Homo sapiens: one gene and its partner. The protein of the gene in region 2 purifies or fractionates together with the protein of the main gene of each other region. This does not show direct contact. Each region holds a gene or a part of one and is shown on either strand. Other genes may lie near its edges. The genes, in order: ZP2 and ZP3.

Region 1 (9,810 bases), on a different chromosome or scaffold from region 2:
TTCAAGTAGTTAATGGCTGCAACACAGATTCATAGGTCATCACTGCTCCATTAGTCTGGCAGTATCAGGATGTTCATTTTAGGGAGAAGTTTGAGATCATTTAAGCAATTTCACAGACTGCAATCTCTTACCTGGGTAGCTTTGCAGGATCAAGGTAAATGGACCCAACTTCACTGAGGCCACTGGAGGAGTAAGGCTTTCAACGTTGATGTTTAGTAGCATGTCATTCCTGCTATAAGAACACTTCACTGTCATTCTGTAAGAGTTTGGAGGGAAGGTAGGTACAGAAAATTTCAGGTTAAAAAATTGCTTGAGTTTAAACTAGAGCTTAAGAGTCAAATAGCAATTTTATCTCACCTGAACTCACTGTCTCTAGATATTTTGCTTGGAGGAAAATCCGTCCAGAGAGCATGTATTTCGTTTTCATAGACGACTTTATCATCTTCGAACTTAAATGTCAGAGAAAGTGGGTTAGCAGCCAGTTATGTCAAAGATGAGACTTAACCTCGTGCCATCTGCCAGTACTAACCTTATATCTCGTTCCACATCCATTCAGGGGTATGTGGAACCGTACCAGCCCCTGAGACTGAGCCTCAAAGACAGGCTGGCAGGATGAGTTTCCCACCCTCAGAGTACCCAGGTCAAGAGCTGGTTGTGTTTGGTAGCTGTAGACCTCGACGTCCATAAACCCATCCTGGGTGCACAGCTCCCCTGTAACTAGACAGCGGTGAAAGTTTAGAGAAAATAAGTTTGTCTGCCCTGTGATACTGTCATCTCCCAACCTGATATGCTACGAGGGAGAAATTCTAATTTAGCAGGAGGCATCAGAATCTGTCTTGAAGTCTTTATGAGGGAACCTTGATCAGCAGCTTGAATTACAAAGGGAGCTGAAGTTAGTTGATTGTTCTATGTGAGAGTAGGACTTTTCATCCAAAGGAGGGACCAGTAGATGTAGGAAGAAGTGCTATATGGTATAAGACCAGTGAGAATCCTGATGAAGGGCAGGAGTTGACTCAAGGTTAAACTTAATGTGGCTTTAAGTACAGCGCCTATGTTATTGTATCCTTTCTTTGTATACTCACAAATCCTGAGTAGTTTGGGGAGAAACTGAGGCAGGAGCTGGTTTTCCTATTTGATCTGACCTGTGCAGATCACATTAAACAGAAGCACATGGTGGAGGCAATGCTAAACAAGAGATATTCACTCTATTTAAGAATTTGTAGGAATTTTGGGGTGGGGGGGTACTTAAACTTAATTCTAATTAGAAGTTTGAATATTCTTACCTAGATGTCAGGTTCAGGCTCCTAAGCCAAAATATCTAGATTGTTTAACCATGGAGCAGTTGCCATAAAACCTACCTATGTAGGGATCTTAAAAATATCATACTTAGGACCCCATCGTAGCAGCTACACTGTTTCTAATCTGACTAGTCTTTAGTTTCTTCAGTCTATAAGCAATAGATCAGAATCTGACCTTCTATACATTTGCCCACATGTACAAGAGCCAAGGGAGAAAAAAGGTAGAACATGATTTTAATAAAAGGTCTTTACCTATAGAAACGGGTGACTCACAGAGACACTCAGGATAGATCACCATGGATACTGTCTCTGGCCGAAGGAGAAAGGTCAGCTTGAGTGAAGCTAAGTAGAACTGATGGAGTAGGCATTTTTCAGATAACTGAAATGAGAAAATGTCAATTAGCAGCCACAGTCCGTTGGGGCCCGGAACCGTCACAGGGAGGCAGGAAGCAAGTCCACTAAATACTTGCAGGACACACTCCAGACTTATCTGGGCTCCCTTTAAACCAAAACAAGAGAGACCCTATCACTTCCTCAGATCTGGATGTATCCCCAGGCAGATTTATTGCTTTAAACTCATGCCCTGGAGTACCCAGCACTGTACTCTTTGTACGAGGCACTAAAGCTTGAATTAGCAGATCAAATTCCAAAGAATAGTGGAATCCTCTGCCAAGCCAGGTCTGAGTCAAAAGGACTCTACAGATGTTATAAAATGGTATTGCATAATATGTACCCCCAACCTAAGATTATTCTCTGGTATCCCTGGCAGTTCTAGTGAAGACTAACCTCAACAGCAACAGTACGGGACCCTTTTGTTTAGATCAAGGTGTCCTGTTCGTTGACCAGGACAGATTCATCATTAGGTATTTGACAAGTAGTTGCTACTACTCAGTTGGGGCCTTAGACAGTTTTAAGACTTAGAAAGACTTAGACGATTTTTCATGACAGAAGTTAAAGAGGTTTTGTGTTAGAGAATGAACTTTAGTTACTTGATATTTCACTTATACAAGATGATCAAATGAGGCCTTTTGGAGTTTGAATCTGTTATGTTGGCAATTAGAGCTCACGGGCAAGTTATCAGCCGTATGAGGACTACCCACAAGAGTATACTTCAAGTCAGGACCCGGTGGAGTTCAGTGGTTGACAATTGAACATACTTTCGTTTTGAGCAGAGTTTTGCTGAAATGCAATTTCATGCCATTTGTTGCTTCTAGATCAATTCCATTGTCATGCAGCTGGCTCACATCAATGTTCTGGTTTTCAAAGCTCACAGACTTAAGCTTCCCAGGAAACTCTGGTATGGTGAGAGTCATGTGTGTGGCATTGCAGGTCACAGGATCTAGAAGGAATGACAACAGAATGCCCATTACCAGCCTTGATTAAGCTTCTAGGACAATGTCTCCCACACTGAGGTTGCAGCTATCTGGGACCTTACCTGGTGCACAAATAGCTTGTGAAGAGAAGATCACCTTCTGTCCAGGAGATATAAATGTAAGCTTCAGAGACACCATGTAGAGATGACTGTTACCTTGCTAGGGGGAGAAATAACAGTGATCTTCAAAAACATTGGTTACTTGAATCTCTAACCAGTAAGAATCATCTTGGCAAGTATATATCCAAGTAATGGGCACTACTTTGACACAAGTAGGATTTAAGCATTTGTCTAATGACTAATTTGTCTAATCTGGAGGTATATTAGTTTTAACCTTGTTCTAACATCTGGAAGAATGTTGTCTAGATCACCTGTAGCCAATGACTTCTAGGCAGATAAGATCTGTCCTTACCCCATATGACTATTTTAAAGTATCAGCAGCCAGACAATGTTTTCAAGCCTCAATCCATTTGTGTTCTTACTGGGAGATAGGACTGTTCTTGAAGTGGTTGGCATTTGAGCACTTACATCTCAGGACCTGTCCTAAGTACTTTAGGAGATTAATTCATTTAGTGCAGTGTTCAGACTATTGGCCTGGAAAGCACCAATACTTGCTATAAAACAATATAGGACAATGACAACCCAAACAGAACCCCTTAACCCATAAAGCTTTCAGGAATATGCTTGTTCTGTGTTGTACTATAGATTTAAGACTATGGGAAAGAGACTAGATTGAGGTAAGGATTATGTATTTTTGAGAAATGGTCTCGCTCTGTCGCCCAGGCTGGAGTGCAGTGGTACAATCTCGGCTCACTGCAACTTCTACCTCCTGGGTTCAAGCGATTCTCCCACCTCAGCCTCCTGAGTAGTTGGGATTATAGGCATGTACCATCTCACCCAGTTAAGTTTTTGTGTTTTTAGTAGAGACAGGGTTTCACTAAACAGACAGGGTTGGCCGGGCTGGTCTTGAACTCCTGACCTCAAGCGATCTGCCCGCTTCAGCCTTCCAAAGTGCTGGGATTACAGGTGTGAATACCCAGCGAAGTGTTTGGCACTTAATAGGCATTAAAATGGGTTGTATTATAAATTAATGTGAAGACATGGTTGAGATCATGCTTCAATTTAGGAATACTGGCCTGTGCTTTGGTGGTACAAAGCCAGACTTCCACACCTACCACATAGTGAGTCACTCCAGTGGCATTGAATGGCACATGGAAGGTCATCCTGTGGTTGTCAATCAAGAGGCTGAAGCCTTCCTTCATGGCCTCTGGCAGGGTCAGAGTTTTGGCTCTTGCACCATCACCAACCTCAATGCTCCATCCCATCTGAACTTTGGTCCCCTGAAGTCAAAAAGCTTTGTTTAGAGGGCTGGTGCTCCCTTAACCAAGTCTCTGGTAGTCTAACAATTTATCAGGTTAAAGGTAATATCACCTTTAACATAGAATTAAAGGTTATTAAGGTCTGATTTTTAAAATTTGCTTCATACCTTACTGTCGTCAGCCAAGCCAGAGAAGACCCGTGGCAAGGAAAACTGGAAGAAAAGAATTGTGATGTAAGACTTTGATTTGGAGGTAGATGTTTCCGAATTCATGCCAGAAATTGCTGTGTGGTTGTCATACCAAAAGGCCTGCTGTGGGATGCAGTGGAAGAAGCACATGAACCCTGACTGTGCCCTTAGATGTCATTATACTTCTTTGAACTTCTGATCCCAAGAGGCAGCTGGAAGATCTAAGCTCCTTTCCAGTTGTAAGTTGGGACACATTTCTCCCCCCAAGATAGAGTTTCGCTCATCGCCCAGGCTGGAGTGCAATGGTGCAATCTCGGCTCCCTGCAACCTCCGTCTCCTGGGTTCAAGCGATTCTCCTGCCCCAGCCTCCCAAGTAGCTGGGATTACAGGAATGTACTACCATACCCGGCTAGTTTTTTGTATTTAGTAGAGATGGGTTTTCACCATGTTGGTCAGGCTGGTCTCAAACTCCTGACCTCAGGTGATCCACCTACCTCAGCCTCCCAAATTGCTGGGATTACAGGCATGAGCCACCATGCCTGACCAGGACAATGTTCTTAAACGTTTGCCCTTTCACCAATGTCCATAGAAATCAGGTACTATGTAAAAGCCATGCAGTTCTATCATTGTTATTGAGTTGCTTTTATGTCAGTGTTATTTTTAGTTGTCCATTGTTGACATTAGCCATGTTAGACTCTAAACCCATGAAGATGTGACTGGGTCGTTTTGTTCACTTATTGTATCTTAGCATCTAGGGTAGGGCCTGGAACATGGCATGTATTCCATTTGTCAGATGATTAGTGTGAGTGCAACTACCAATAAAACCCTATTGCCATGCATGATGTGCCAAGTACCATGTATATACCCTCAGTAAATTCTTAGAGCCACCCTGAGGTAAGCATTATTGTCCCATCACTTTGGACTTGGAAACAAAGCCTCAGGGTAAAGTTAAACCTCATCACACAGAAAATTAGCAAGTACAGGATTAAATCATGGTCTGATTTCTAAGCCCCGCCCTGGTTAGATCATCATCATATTCCCCCTGCAGTAGCCATATACCCCGAGCAGTCAGCCCGTTTCACTCACAGACATGAAATCCTTCTGGCAGATTGTAGATGCTGAAAGCCCCTGGGTCTCTTCTACTTGCATAGCTGGACAGAAGAACTGATACATGACAGCTCCGTGTCTTAAGGCAGCACTGTTGTTCATGACTCTGATGGTCATCTGGTGTCCACCATGCTGTGTACAGATAGCACAGTGGGAACAGAGTAAGTACTGTACCCCCATGGGATTCTAGAATACCATCTGACCCATCTGAGTGGGAAAACCCTTAAAGTTACTAATACCACAAGTGCTGGAAGGTACCTCATTCCCGTACCAGGAGACTAGCTAGCCCATTGTAATCTGTTAGTGAAGACTCATGCTGATAGGCCAGTTTTAGCATCAGGAAATGGAGTTCAGTTTCTATTTCTCTTATGTGTACCCTATGTCTCAGTACCATGGTCCTGGCTGAATGGGGTTGGTATGGGGCTTCTACCCAGGTTATCTGAATACTTGTTAAGCACCTAAGTAGCTGCCATTGTGCTGGGTAGAGCTACCCTTGCTATTACCCCTGACCTTAGGAAACTCAGTCTAAAAGCAGGGGTCAGCCAACCTTTTTCCATTATGCATTAGCAACTGTTTTAGACTCATGTGAGCCACATGAAATCCATAGCATATTTCCTTAAAAGAACTTTAAAAAGATAAAAGCCAGCTGGGCATGGTGGCTCATTGCCTGTAACTCCAGCACTTTGGGAGGCTGAGGCAGACTGACTGCTTGAGCTCAGGAGTTCAAGACCAGCCTGTGCAACATGGTGAGAGACTCCATCTCTATATATATATTAAACACACACACACACACACACACACACACACACACACACACACACACCACAAAAGTTAGCTGGGTGTGGTGGTATATGCCTGTGGTCTCAGCTACTGGGCAGGCTGAGGTGGTACTGAGACATAGGGTAGGGGATTGCTTGAGTCCGGGAGGTAGAGGTTGCAGTGAGCCGAGATTATGCCACTGCATGCCAGCCTGGACAACAGCAAGACCCTGTCTCAAGAAGATTAAGAAGATAAAACCCATTCTTAGTTTGAAAACCAAACCAAAACAAAAACAAACAAAAACACAAAAAAAACCCATGAACTAGGCACAGTGGTTCATGCCTATAATCCCAGTGCTTTGGAAGGCTGAGGTGGGAGGATCCCTTGAGGCCAGAAGTTTGAGGCCAGCCTGGACAACATGGTGAAATCCCCATTTTGACAAGACAAAGATTAGACAGGCATAGTGTTGCATGCCTGTAGCCCCAACTAGTTGGGAGGCTGAGACGGGAGAATCCCTTGAGCCCAGCAGTTCTAGGCTGCAGTGAGCCATGATTGCAGCCACTACTTTCCAGCCTGGGCTACAGAGCAAGCCTGCCTCAGAAAGAGACCATGGACTGCGTTTGGCCATCCACAGGTTATGGCTTGCAGACCCTTAGTCTAAGGGAATGCGACTCCAAGACCTCTAATGTTGAGAAGGTCTGTTTTAGAAGGAAATTATCAGGTTTTTCATGAAGGACCTATGATTACTTCATTGATTGATCACAGAGGGCTTTAGGGGACCAGATGACTTACAGTTCAAGCCTGTTTACAGAGTAGGGTCTAAGACTGTATCTGTACAAAGCTTAGACTGCTGACCACCTGCATCGTAATCAGATGGTATAGACTGTTAGATATGCAGATTCCCAGAACTCACCCCAGGCCTATGTCCAACTAGTCAAACCCAAACTTTCCAAATTACAACTTGCTAGCTTCTGCTTAGACAGGTTGCTTTTATTGCTCCTAATATTCCTGATTGGGCAATACTGTTGCTTGGCAATAGAAAAACCCTTACTGCTTAGCTGCTGTTTGCCTTTTAACACCTGTTTCTATAGGTCAGATTTCTATTTGCTAGCACCAAAATAGCCTTCCATCTCATGTTGGGGTTCACAGATCAAAATAGCTCGTGTTTCATCACTTGTTGTATCCAGGTTCTGCACCAGGTCTTAATCTGTAGAACATCATTAGTCTTCATTACCCCCATGGAGCAGGCACCATTACTCTCATCTTCTAATGGGCAAACAGGCTTGAAAGGGCTCACTTGGTGGAAATTACACCTGATTAGTGGTAGAGCCAGGGCTCAAGGGCTCAAGTACTTGAATGCCAGGGTTTCTCATCCTCAACACTGACATCTCAGTCCTGGTAATTCTGTGTTATGGGGAGGAGACTTGGGTAATGTTGGTTGTCTGCCAGCATCTTTGGCTTGTATCCATTAGATGCCAGTAGTAGCTCTTCTACCTTCAGTTGTGATAACCAAAGATGTTTCTAGATGTTGTCAAATGTCCCCTGGACAGATTCCCCCCACCCTCCTCCAGACAGTTTTGCTCTTGTTGCCCAGGCTGGAGGGCAATGGAGCAATCTCAGCTCACTGCAAACCTCTGTCCCCTGGGTTTAAGCGATTCTCCTGCCTCAGCCTCACAAGTAGCTGGGATTACAGGTGTGTGCTACCACACCCAGCTAGTTTTTTGTATTTTTAGTAGGGATGGGGTTTCACCATGTTGGCCAGGCTGGTCTCAAACTTCTGACCTCAGGTGATCCACCCGTCTCAGCCTCCTAAAGTGCAGAGATTATAGGCGTGAGCCATCACACCTGGCCTAGACAGATTATAATAGAAAAGAAGAGCCACACACGAGACACCACCCCCTTGGTTGAGAGCCACTGCTTTACTCCAAAGAGAAAGTTCTTAGCCAAGTTTACTGCCAGTAACTCTTAGGTTACTACGTACTTCCCCAAGAACTGCTCAAAGCAATGACTTACCACTCTCCTGGTACAGTTATCATAGGTAGCCCTCAGGGTGAGCTTTTCTGGGTCCAGGATGTAAGTGCAGTTCGGCATGTCGAGACCAAGAGGATCTGCCAAGGCCAGAGCAGGTTAGACAGGATGGCTGAGTACATTTCAGTGACAGTCCAAAGCTATAGAGTCAAGACCACCAGTCCATTTCTAAGGTACTTCAGTCCCTTCACTTCCGCCCCAACTCAGTGATAGAACTTGAGCTTTGAGATGGTATGACTTGCAGCCAGAGGCTTCCCAGAGATGCTGGCATAAGACACACTTTCGAAGACAGACAGGTCTTCCATGCTGGGTGGCTTCATGCAAATCAGGTATCCCCATGGCATCATGGGAGTTGGATGCCGTTGCTGCAGGAGTTTGGGTACTCTGCTCCCCAAACAGGATTGACCTAAGCCAAAGGCTGTCTGCTAATCAGGACTATGAGGAGATAACACACGTTACCTACCCACCACAGATGCATGCCATTTCTTGGTGCCAGGACTGCTTGGGAACTCCACTGTTATTTCCCTTTCATCGCAAGTGACAGTGCCTAAGGAGCAAAGGAAGCATTTGGGGGCTTTGAGTCATGAGTGATGCAACTCCTACAAAAGTGTATAGACTCCTCTCAGATGGGAGGGATTCCAGATGAGGGAGGCAAGAATCGTCCCCTACCCTGGGAGAGCTCACAAACAAGTGACCAAGACAACAATACAATATGCCAAGAACTGTAAGGAAAATATCAGGTACCCAGGGCTTTTGAAGTGTTCCAGTAAGAAGCCCAGGTTAGGGTTGACAAGCAGGTCTGTAGGAGCCAGGTCAACACCTTGACAGTGGAGCAGATGGAGGCAGGCCCGAAAAACTGACAAAAGCTTTGTCAACAGGTTTTGCAAATTGATGTTAAACAAAGTCCTGGGTAAGTCCCAGGACTTTTATTTATTTATTTATTTATTTTGAGACGGAGTCTCTCTGTCACCCAGGCTGGAGTGCAGTGGCACGATCTCAACCCACCTCAACCTCCGCCTCCCAGGTTCAAGCGATTCTCCTGCCTCAGCCTCCCAAGTAGCTGGGATTACATGTGCCCACCACCACACCCAGCTAGTTTTTGTATTTTTGGTAGAGATGGGGTTTCACCACATTGGCCAGGCTGGTCTCAAACTCCTGAGCTCAGGTGATCTGCCCGCCTTGGCTTCCCAAAGTTCTGGGATTACAGGCGTGAGCCCCGGCGCCTGGCTGCATTTTTTTTTTTTTTTTTAAAGATCAAGTTTTGCCCATCATCTGCTACTCTGCAGCCTCTGGCTCAGGTGAACGTCAAGTGAGCAGCTCCAGTTTTGCTTGTTATGTCGATGTTTTCCTTAAGCATGAGTTTGTGTTTGAAGATTGCTGCTCCTAAAGATGAGGGCTTAGTGTGGTGGTTTGCTGTTCTGTGGATACCATAAAGCTTGAGGCAGTGAGGGATTGGAAGGCAGTGCAAGTGTTTGAGTTTTCATTTAGCAGGTATAGTGAGTCTACAGGTTAGCAGAAGAAAGATCCAGTAACCTGACCAAGGTAATAAAGGGGGTGAATGGAGGTTGTCTGAGCCAGGCCTGTGTTTCTTGGCCAGCTAGGCCTTCCAGCTGCAACCTGTTTTCTCTGCTAAGAAGACTTCTGTCACCCAAGAGACATACCTGGAAAGGCAGGATTTACCAACTGAGAAACATCTATGGAGTTCCCTGAAGTCACAAGGGCGAAGAAGAGAGAAATCG
Region 2 (9,810 bases):
AGTTACTTGAGGAATTATTCCAGTTTAGAGGCTCACAAACATGTCTTAGATTTACTTGGGGAGCCAGGTGCCTGGCTCCCCCCCCTTCTGTGAAATGGGCTTTAATAGGTTAGAAGCTGATAAGTGGTATTTTTTTGTTGTTGTTTTTGTTTTTTGAGACAGTTTTGCTCTTATTGCCCAGGCTGGAGTGCAATGGCGCCTATAATCCCAGCACTTTGGGAGGCTGAGATGGGAGGATCACTTGGGCCCGGGAGTTTAAGGCCACCCTGGGCAACATAATGAGACCCCCTTCTCTACCAAACACCACACACACACACACACACACACACACACACACAATAGGGTGTGGTGGCGCCTGCCTTTAGTCTCAGCTACTTGGGAGGCTGAAGTGGGAGGATTGCTTAAACCCATGATTTGGAGGCTGCAGTGAGCTACGATTGTGCCACTGCATTCCAGCCTGGAAGGCAGAGCAAGACCCTCTTTTATTAACCCCACCTGTGGAGCTTCTAAAAATCCTGATGTCCAGGCTGCTAAAATAGAAAGGATGTGGGACCAGCTGTGGGTAATAAGGATCTCAGGTGACTCCAATGAGGAGCAAAGCCTGCAAACTCCTTCCTCTGGTGTGGTGTTTCCCAGTTTTGCCCGGTGAGAATCACCTGCGGCTGGCCGTGCGCAGTGGCTCACGCCTGTAATCCCAGCACTTTGGGAGGCCGAGGCGGGTGAATCACGAGGTCAGGAGTTCAAGACCAGCCTGGCCACGATGGTGAAACCTCATCTCTACTAAAAATACAAAGAAGTTAGCCGGGTGTGGTGGCGGGCACCTGTAATCCCAGCTACTCAGGAGTCTGAGGCAGAGAATTGCTTGAACCCGGGAGGCGTAGGTTGCAGTGAGTTGAGATCGTGCCACTGCACTCCAGCCTGGGCAACAGAGTGAGACTCCGTCTCAAAAAAAAAAAAAAAAAAAATACAGCCATGGCCAGTTTCCCAGGTATACAACCTGTGCAGTTCTGTGGGGCCCAGTGCTTAATGGAATGCCCTCTTGCCCTGAAATGGTAATAACTTTTGAATAAGGGGCCCCACGAGCTATGCTGGTTCTGTCTGTGCTGGGGCACTTGCTAATAAGGTCTAGGACTATTCCCTGAAGATCGAGTTTGGTCAGGGCCAGGCAGCCACCTGAGCTCTTGGGCAACTTCGACCTCCTAGGCTCAAGCCATCCTCCTGCCTCAGCCTCCTGAATAGCTGGGATGGACTACAGGCACATGCCACCGTGCCCAGCCAAGTTATGTTTTTGTAGAGATGGGGTCTAGCTCTATTGCCCAGGCTGGTCGTGACTTCCTGGCCTCAAGCAATCCTCTTCCCTCCCAAAGTGCTGGGATTACAGGCATGAGCCACTGCACCCAGCCCTCAAGTAGTTTTTAAATAAGCTCCCTGAGATGAGAGGTGGGGATAGTGAGCTTAGAATAGGTGGTTGGGGGTTGAGTCATGGTGGCTCACACCTGTAATCCAGCACTTTGGGAGGCTGAGGCAGGTGGATCACCTGAGGCCAGGAGTTCGAGACCAGCCTGGCTAACATGGCGAAACCCTGTCTCTATTTAAAAAAAAAAAAAAAAGGCACGGTGGCACGTGCCTGTAATTCCAGCTACTCAGAGGCTGAAGCAGAGAATTGCTTGAACCTGGGAGGCGGAGGTTGCAGTGAGCCGAGTTCGTGCCACTGCACTCCAGCCTGGGTGACAGAGCAAGACTGCATCTCAAAAAAACAAAAGGTGGTTAGGAAGTGACTAAAGTAGGGGTTTCCAGTGCTGGCTCTATGCTAATCACCTGGAAAGGTTGTAAAAATACTGATTCTCAAGAGAATCTCATACCTTCACTCTACTGGGGTAGGGCCTAGCGTCACATTTTTCTAATATTCTAGCAAAATCTTCGAACTTAGGTGTTTGCTATAAAACTCTCTCCCAGGCAGGCCCTGCCTTCTGCAGCCCTATTGGACGATGCAAATTTCCCCAGTAGTACTCACCTGTGCTCTTCCTGCCTCAGGCAACCTCTGAATCAGTCTCCCCCACCTTATGTGAAATGGGCTTGAATAGGTTAGAAGCTGATGTGGGTTGTTGTGTTTTTTGTTTGTTTTTGTTTTTGAGAGTTTTGCTCTTGTTGCCCAGGCTAGAATGCAATGGCACGATCTCCGCTCACTGCAACCTCTGCCTCCCGGGTTCAAGCGATTCTTCTGCCTCAGTCTCCCGAGTAGCTGGGATTACAGGCACGTGCCACCACACTCAGCTAATTTTTTTTTTTTAAGTAGAGATGGGGTTTCACCATGTTGGTCAGGCTGGTCTCAAACTCCTGACCTCAGATGATCTGCCCTCCTCAGCCTCCCAAAGTGCTGGGATTACGGGCGTGAGCCACAGCGCCCAGCCAGAAGCTGATAAGTGTTAACAGCTGGGCACTTCCTGACTGCTTCCTGGCGGCTATCTTGGCCCTGGGCCTCTCCTGAAAGAGGAAACTGTATGTACTGGGGGGCATGGAGGGGGAGTGTCAGAAGGGATGTGTCATGTGCCCTGATGCCTCTATTGCTTGGGTGTTACATGGTATCTGCCATGTGGTTGATCCAGTCTGCCTGTGGTGGTGTCAATATGTGGTGTCAGGTAAAGATTCCGAGGTACAAAGACAGTACCTGTCCTGCCTCTTTCCTGACCAGTGGCAGAGCCTGTGTTCTCTTTTGTAGAGATGGGGTCTTGCTATGTTTCCCAGGCCAGTCTCAAACTCCTGGCCTCAAGCAATCCTTGGCCTCCCAAAGTGCTGGGGTTACAGGCATGAGTCACTGCACCTGGCCTTGACCCTGTGGTCTTTCTGTCCCCTTGTGGGCTGCCCTCCCTGAGCACTCAGGTATGGCTTGGGAGTACCCGGGCAGGTGATGGCCGGCAGCATTAACTTCTCACCTTTCCTCCAGGTAACTGACGATGCCCTGGTGTACAGCACCTTCCTGCTCCATGACCCCCGCCCCGTGGGAAACCTGTCCATCGTGAGGACTAACCGCGCAGAGATTCCCATCGAGTGCCGCTACCCCAGGTCGGTGTGGGACTGACTCATGGCCCCTGGTGCAAAAGCCCCTTGGGTGTGGCTGCAGGCAAGTGGGCTGGCTATGGGCTACAGCTTGCAGCATGGCTATTAGAACTACCTACCGAAGCATTTGCAGCTGTGGTTACTGTACTGCGTGGGATTGTGGGGCCTGCTGAGTCTAGTTCGAGCCCCAGAAGAGTATCAGGAGCCCAACTGCAGCTTAGCGGAAGCTTCAGAGCTGCTCAGCCCTGGTGGTGGTACTATGCCAGCCTCGGCCCTTAGGGTTCAGAAATGGCCTTCCAATAGTGCTAGGCTGGGGCCAGGTGCAGTGGCTCATCCTGTAATCCTAGCACTTTGGGAGGCTGACAGGTGGATCGCTTGAGGTCAAGGAGTTCAAGACCAGTCTGGCCTACATGGTGAAACCCCATCTCTACTAAAAACACAGAAATTAGCCGGGTGTCTATAATCCCAGCTACTTGGGAGGCTGAGGCAGGAGAATTGCTTGAACCCAGGAGGCAGAGGCTGCAGTGAGCCGAGATTGCACTGCTGTACTCCATTCTGGGCAACAAAGCGATACTCCATCGCAAAAAATAATAATAAAATAGTGCTAGGCTGCGTTCTAGAATCTGACCTGGGCGGTGGTGGCCTACTCTTCTGTGGTCCTCAAGCCCCTGGCATCAAGCACGTGCCTGTGAACTCAGGCCCTGAAGTGGGAGGAGAAACTATGGCTCCCAAGGACAACACTGGGTCCTGTGCTGGCCTCAGCATGGGGTGCAGGGGACTTTGTCCCTGCCCTTGAACCAGTCTGGGAGTGGGTATAAGATGATGCGGCCAGGTATGGTGGCTCACGCCTGTAATACCAGCCCTTTGGGAGGCCAAGGTGGGCAGCTCACGAGGTAAGGAGTTCAGGACCAGCCTGGCCAACATGGTGAAACCCATCTCTACTAAAAACACAAAAAAATTAGCCGAGTGTGGTAGCGCGTGCCTGTAATCTCAGCTACTCAGGAGGCTGAGGCAGGAGAATCATTTGAACCCAGGATGCAGAGGTTGCAGTGAGCTGAGATGGCACCATTGCACTCCAGCCTGGGCAACAGAGCAAGACTCCATCTCAAAAAGAAAATGCTAGTGTGAAGTGGGTAGGGAGCTGATACCAGTCAGGACATCATGAGGGATGAGCCATGCCCCTGGGAGGGGTCATGGTAGGGGTTATCCTAGAACAGGATCCTGGAGTGGGGGACCTTGAGGCTGAGATGGCCTGGGCAGAGCCATGTGGCCACACACCCAACGGGAGGGTAGTGTGCCCTTAGTAGGTGACATGCAGCCTGGGGGCTGGAGCCCAGGGACTGGGGTAATGAGGGAGCCAGACAGATGGGCTCACCAGCCTCACCACAGGTGCCCCTCCTGGAATGGGTGAGGACTGAATCTCCACCCAGGGTCACCTGGTGGCTGGTGCTGAAGACAAATGGGAACTAGTGAGAACCAGCTGGGAGGCTGGAAAACTGGGATTCAATGAGGCCTGACCCATGGTTGCAGGGACCGTAGAGGCTGACTCGCAGGAGCTAAGAGCAGTTGGAGGAGCTTGGTGCCTATGTGGGTAGGGGAGATGGAGGAGGATAGAGGAGTCAAGGGCAGGCTGCCCAGTCGGCATGAGGGACTGAAGCTGTCCTGTGACCGTGGAAGTCTGACTTCAGTCTCTGGGCCTGACCCCTGAGGATGGTGGCTCACCTGGTCCATTGGCTGTAGGTAGTATTAGAGAGGCTGGTTGTAGGCTGGGATGCTTTAACCTGGCTCCAGATACCTGAGTCTGGTTATCAATAGATGCATCCATCACTTGGAGTAGCTTCTTCCAGCAGATCCTATGGGGTTAGCAGGGTAGGTATCTGCAGATACCCAGACCTGCTTCCATGGACTTCCCAGTCACTGGTGTGGGTCCAGGCTCTCGGTAGCATCTCAAGACCTAAGGGCCTGTCTTTGATCTCTAAAGGATGGCCTTGGCTGGGCATGGTGGCTCACGCCTATAATCCCAGCACTTTGGGAGGCCGAGGCGGGCGGATCATGAGGTCAGGAGATGGAGACCATCCTGGCTAACGTGGTGAAACCCCGTCTCTACTAAAAATACAAAAAATTAGCCAGGCCTAGTGGCGGGTGCCTGTAGTCCCAGCTATTTGGGAGGCTGAGGCAGGAGAATGGCGTGAACCTGGGTGGTGGAGCTTGCAGTGAGCCGAGATCGTGCCACTGTACTCCAGCCTGGGAGACAAAGTGAGACTCCGTCTCAAAAAAAAAAAAAAAAGATGGCCTTAGCTGATTCCCCTCTCAAGCATCCTGTGGAGTACTGTGCAGGGCCTGCTATCAGACCCCAAACCTGAACCTCTAGGGCTAAAGTATGTGTGGTGGCTTTTGGTTTTTTGTTTAAAAAAAAAAAGTCTTACTCTGCCGCCCAGGCTGGAGTGCAGTGGGGTGCCATCATAGTTCACTGCAGCCTTGACCTCCTGGGCTCAAGCAATCCTCCCATCTCAGCCTCCTGAGTAGCTGGTATGTACTACTATGCCCAGCTATCTTTTCTTTTCTTTTCTTTTTTTTTTGAGATGGAGTCTTGCTCTGTTGCCCAGGCTGGAGTGCAGTGGTGTGATCTCAGCTCACTGCAAACTCCACCTCCGAGGTTCACGCCATTCTCCTGCCTCAGCCTCCCAAGTAGCTGGGACTAAAGGCGCCCGCCACCATGCCCGGATAATTTTATTTTTAGTGGAGATGGGGTTTCACCATGTTAGCCAGGATGGTCTCGATCTCCTGACCTCATGATCCGCCCGCCTCGGCCTCTCAAACTGCTGGGATTATAGGCTTGAGCCACCGTGCCTGGCCTCTTTTCTTTTTTATAGAGATAGAGTCTTGCTATGTTGTCCAGGCTGCTCTCAAACTCCTAGCCTCAGGCAATCCTCCAGTCTCCACCTCCCAAAGTGCTGGGATTACAGGCATGAGCCACCGCACTCAGGTCCAGGGCTCAAGAGGGAGCAGATCTCAGTCTAGAAACCAAACTCCTAGGTTCAGCTGTATCTGTCTTCAGCGGCCCAGATAGCATCATAGCATCAGTTAGGATGGCTAGGCCACTCACAGGTGCAGAAGTTCAGGAGGGTGCAGGGGCAGCCTCAGGCTCAAGGTGTCTGTTCAGCCATCTCGCACCAGCTACCTGGCTGGGCCATAGCTGAGGACCCTGTAGTGGGGTAGCAGTGAGATACTCCCCATCAGTGGGGGCCCAGGTGGGTGTGACCTGAGGCAGGTGTGCACAGCTGCTGTTCTTCTCTCAGGCAGGGCAATGTGAGCAGCCAGGCCATCCTGCCCACCTGGTTGCCCTTCAGGACCACGGTGTTCTCAGAGGAGAAGCTGACTTTCTCTCTGCGTCTGATGGAGGGTAAGAGAAGAAGGCTGGGTGGGACATCTGTGGAAAGACCTGGGCCATCTCAGACCCCTGCCCTTGGCTGTGTCTTTTTTTTGTTTGTTTGGTTTTGGTTTTGGTTGGTTTTGGTTGGTTTTGGTTGGTTTTGGTTGGTTTTTGAGACAGTCTTGATCTGACCTCCAGGCTGGAGTGCAGTGGCACGATCTCAGCTCACTGCAGTCTCCACCTCCTGGGGTTCAAACGATTCTCCTGCCTCAGCCTCCCGAGTAACTGGGACTACAGGCTTCTGACACCACACCCAGCTAACTTTTCTATTTTTAGTAGAGATGGGGTTTTGCCACGTTGGCTAGGCTGGTCTCGAACTCCTGACCTCAGGTGATCCACCTGCCTCAGCCTCCCAAGGTGCTGGGATTACAGGCATGAGCCACCATGCCCAGCTGACTGTGTCTTTCAGAGAACTGGAACGCTGAGAAGAGGTCCCCCACCTTCCACCTGGGAGATGCAGCCCACCTCCAGGCAGAAATCCACACTGGCAGCCACGTGCCACTGCGGTTGTTTGTGGACCACTGCGTGGCCACACCGACACCAGACCAGAATGCCTCCCCTTATCACACCATCGTGGACTTCCATGGGTGAGCACTGGGCTCCCTGCCTAGAGAACCTTCCTAGCAAAATGACCCTAAAGCCACCTGTTTGGCTTTTTGAGACAGTGTCACTCTGTAACCCAGGCTGGAATACAGAGGCTTGATCTCTGCCCTCTGCAACCTCTGCCTCCCAGGTTTAAGTGATTCTCCTGCCTCAGCCCCCCAAGTAGCTGAGATTACAGGTGCCCATCACCATGCCTGGCTAATTTTTGTATTTTTAGTAGAGACAAGGTTTCACCATGTTTGCCAGGCTAGTCTCGAACTCCTGACCTCAAGTGATCCACCCACCTTGGCCTCCCAAAGTGCTGGGATTATGGGCGTGAGCCACGGTGCCCGGCCCACCTGTCTGGCTTTAATACCGTTCTGTTTTCTTCCAAGCTGTCTTGTCGACGGTCTCACTGATGCCTCTTCTGCATTCAAAGTTCCTCGACCCGGGCCAGATACACTCCAGTTCACAGTGGATGTCTTCCACTTTGCTAATGACTCCAGAAACATGGTAAGAGCTTTAACAGCCTGAAAGAAGGCTGAACTTGCAACCTTCATATCCTACTGAATGGGGTCACTCACTAGCTCCACCCCTAAGCAAATGACTTAGAGCTGTGTCCCAGTAACTCAAACTTACAAGTAAAGCCATGAGCTTTAGCGAGGCCTTCAAGCAGAAGGATGAACAATATGAAGCCTTAAGAGGTAGAGGCCGGGCACGGTGGCTCATGCTTGTAATCCCAATACTTTGGGAGGCCGAGGGGGGTGGATCACTTGAGGTCAGGAGTTCAAGACCAGCCTGGCCAACATAGTAAAACCCCGACTCTACTAAATATACAAAAAAAATTAGCTGAGTGTGGTGGTTGGGTACCTGTAATCCCAGCTACCTGGGAGGCTGAAGCAGGAGAATAGCTTGAACCTGGGAGGCAGAGGTTGCAGTGAGCAGAGATTGTGCCACTGCACCTCCAGCCTGAGTGACAGTGAGACTCCATCTCCAAAAAAAAAAAAAAAGGCAGGTGTTAGCCTTCCTGGAGGCTTTCTGCAGGGGCAAAGAAAACCAGTGTGAACTTCGTAGCCAGGGTGGCTTCTTGAACTTGGTCATAGGTTAGGCTAGTGATTCTGAAGGCATCATCCTCAGCTGGAGGGCTTGTTGAAATTGATGACTGGGCCCCAACCCAGGGTTTGATTCAGGTGGTCTAGTGAAGCCTAGAATCTGCATTCTTAAGTGTTGGTTCTGCCAGTCTGGGTCCTCCCCTTGAGAACCTAAACTAGAAAACTCAAATTGACACTAAGAGGGAAGGAGAAGGAAGGAATGAAGATGGGAACTGCCTAATGGCTGAGGTGGGGGAGGGATGCAGTAGGAAGTGCAGGTGCAAGGACCAACATCTAGCCGGGAAGTACTGGTAAGTGGTTAGAAGTAAATTGCCTGGTGCGGTGGCTCGTGCCCATAATCCCAGCACTTTGGGAGGCTGAGGCGGGCAGATCACGAGGTCAGGAGATTGAGACCATCCTGGTTAACACGGTGAAACCCCCTCTACTAAAAATACAAAAAATTAGCTGGGCATGATGGTGGGCACCTGTAGTCCCAGCCACTCCAGGTTCCCAGGTGCAAGTGATTCTCCTGCCTCAGTCTCCCAAGTAGCTGGGAGTACAGGTACCCGCCACCATGCCTGGCTAATTTTTTTGTATTTCTAGTAGAGACAAGGTTTTACCATGTTGTCCAGGCTGGTCCCAAACTCCTGACCTCAGGTGATCCGCCTGCCTCGGTCTCCCAAAGTGCTGGAATTACAGGCGTGAGCCACCATGCCCAGCCTCAAGTAGCTTTTAAACAAGCTCACTGAGATGAGAGGTGAGGCGGTGAGCTTAGAATAGGTGGTTAGGAAGTGATTAAAGTAGGGGTTTCCAGTGCTGGCTCTATACTAATCATCTGGAGAGGTTGTAAAAATACTGATTGTAGAGAGTCTCATACCTTCACTCTATTGGGGTAGGGCATGGTGTCACATTTTGTAACATTAACTAAATCTTCATAGGTGTTTGCTGTAAAACTCCATGAACTTCAGTGTGCACACCATCTAGGTTCTACCACCAGCATTTTTTTTTTTTTTTTGAGACAGTCTCACTCTGTCACCCAAGCTGGAATGCAATGGTGCGGTCTTGGCTCACTGCAACCTCTGCCTCCGGGTGCAAGCAATTCTGCCTCAGCCTCCTGAGTAGCTGGGATTGTAGGCGCCTGCCACCATGCCCGGCTAATCCTTGTATTTCTTAGTAGAGACAGGGATTCATCATTTTGGCCAGGCTGGTCTTGAACTCTTGACCTCATTATCCAACCGCCTCAGCTTCCCAAAGTGCTGGGATTATAGGCATGAACCACCACGCGCCCCCCGCCCCCTTTTTTTTTTTTTTTTTTTTTTTTTTTTTTTTTTTTTTTTTTTTTGAGAGGGTCTCTGTCACCCAGGCTGGAGTACAGTGGCCCAATCTTAGGTCACTGCAACTTCCACCTCCCAGGCTCAAGCGATTCTCCTGCCTTAGCCTCCCAAGTAGCTGAGATTGTAGGCATACGCCACTACTGAGTGCCTGTTATATTTTTAGTAGAGATGGTTTCACCATATTGGCCAGGCTGGTCTTGAATACCCGACCTCAAACGATCCACCTGCCTTGGCCTCCCAAAGTGCTGGGATTACAGGCGTGAGCCACTGTACCCGGCCTGCTAGCATTTTACTGTTATCCTCCATCTACTGA

What was found.
Region 1: the proteins of ZP3 (region 2) and ZP2 purify together in Homo sapiens (co-immunoprecipitation; 2 studies listed by IntAct). This does not show direct contact.

Annotation. Positions count from the first base shown.
Region 1 is NC_000016.10:21,201,575-21,211,384, forward strand, and holds part of ZP2 (zona pellucida sperm-binding protein 2 isoform 1 preproprotein), read right to left. Parts: coding exon 9,733-9,810; intron 8,619-9,732; coding exon 8,535-8,618; intron 8,152-8,534; coding exon 8,057-8,151; intron 5,417-8,056; coding exon 5,264-5,416; intron 4,202-5,263; coding exon 4,157-4,201; intron 4,011-4,156; coding exon 3,846-4,010; intron 2,831-3,845; coding exon 2,734-2,830; intron 2,638-2,733; coding exon 2,456-2,637; intron 1,678-2,455; coding exon 1,551-1,677; intron 718-1,550; coding exon 530-717; intron 450-529; coding exon 358-449; intron 257-357; coding exon 132-256; intron 1-131. UniProt on the Homo sapiens protein: Component of the zona pellucida, an extracellular matrix surrounding oocytes which mediates sperm binding, induction of the acrosome reaction and prevents post-fertilization polyspermy.
Region 2 is NC_000007.14:76,426,571-76,436,380, forward strand, and holds part of ZP3 (zona pellucida sperm-binding protein 3 isoform 1 precursor), read left to right. Parts: intron 1-2,944; coding exon 2,945-3,063; intron 3,064-6,356; coding exon 6,357-6,460; intron 6,461-6,899; coding exon 6,900-7,077; intron 7,078-7,467; coding exon 7,468-7,585; intron 7,586-9,810. UniProt on the Homo sapiens protein: Component of the zona pellucida, an extracellular matrix surrounding oocytes which mediates sperm binding, induction of the acrosome reaction and prevents post-fertilization polyspermy.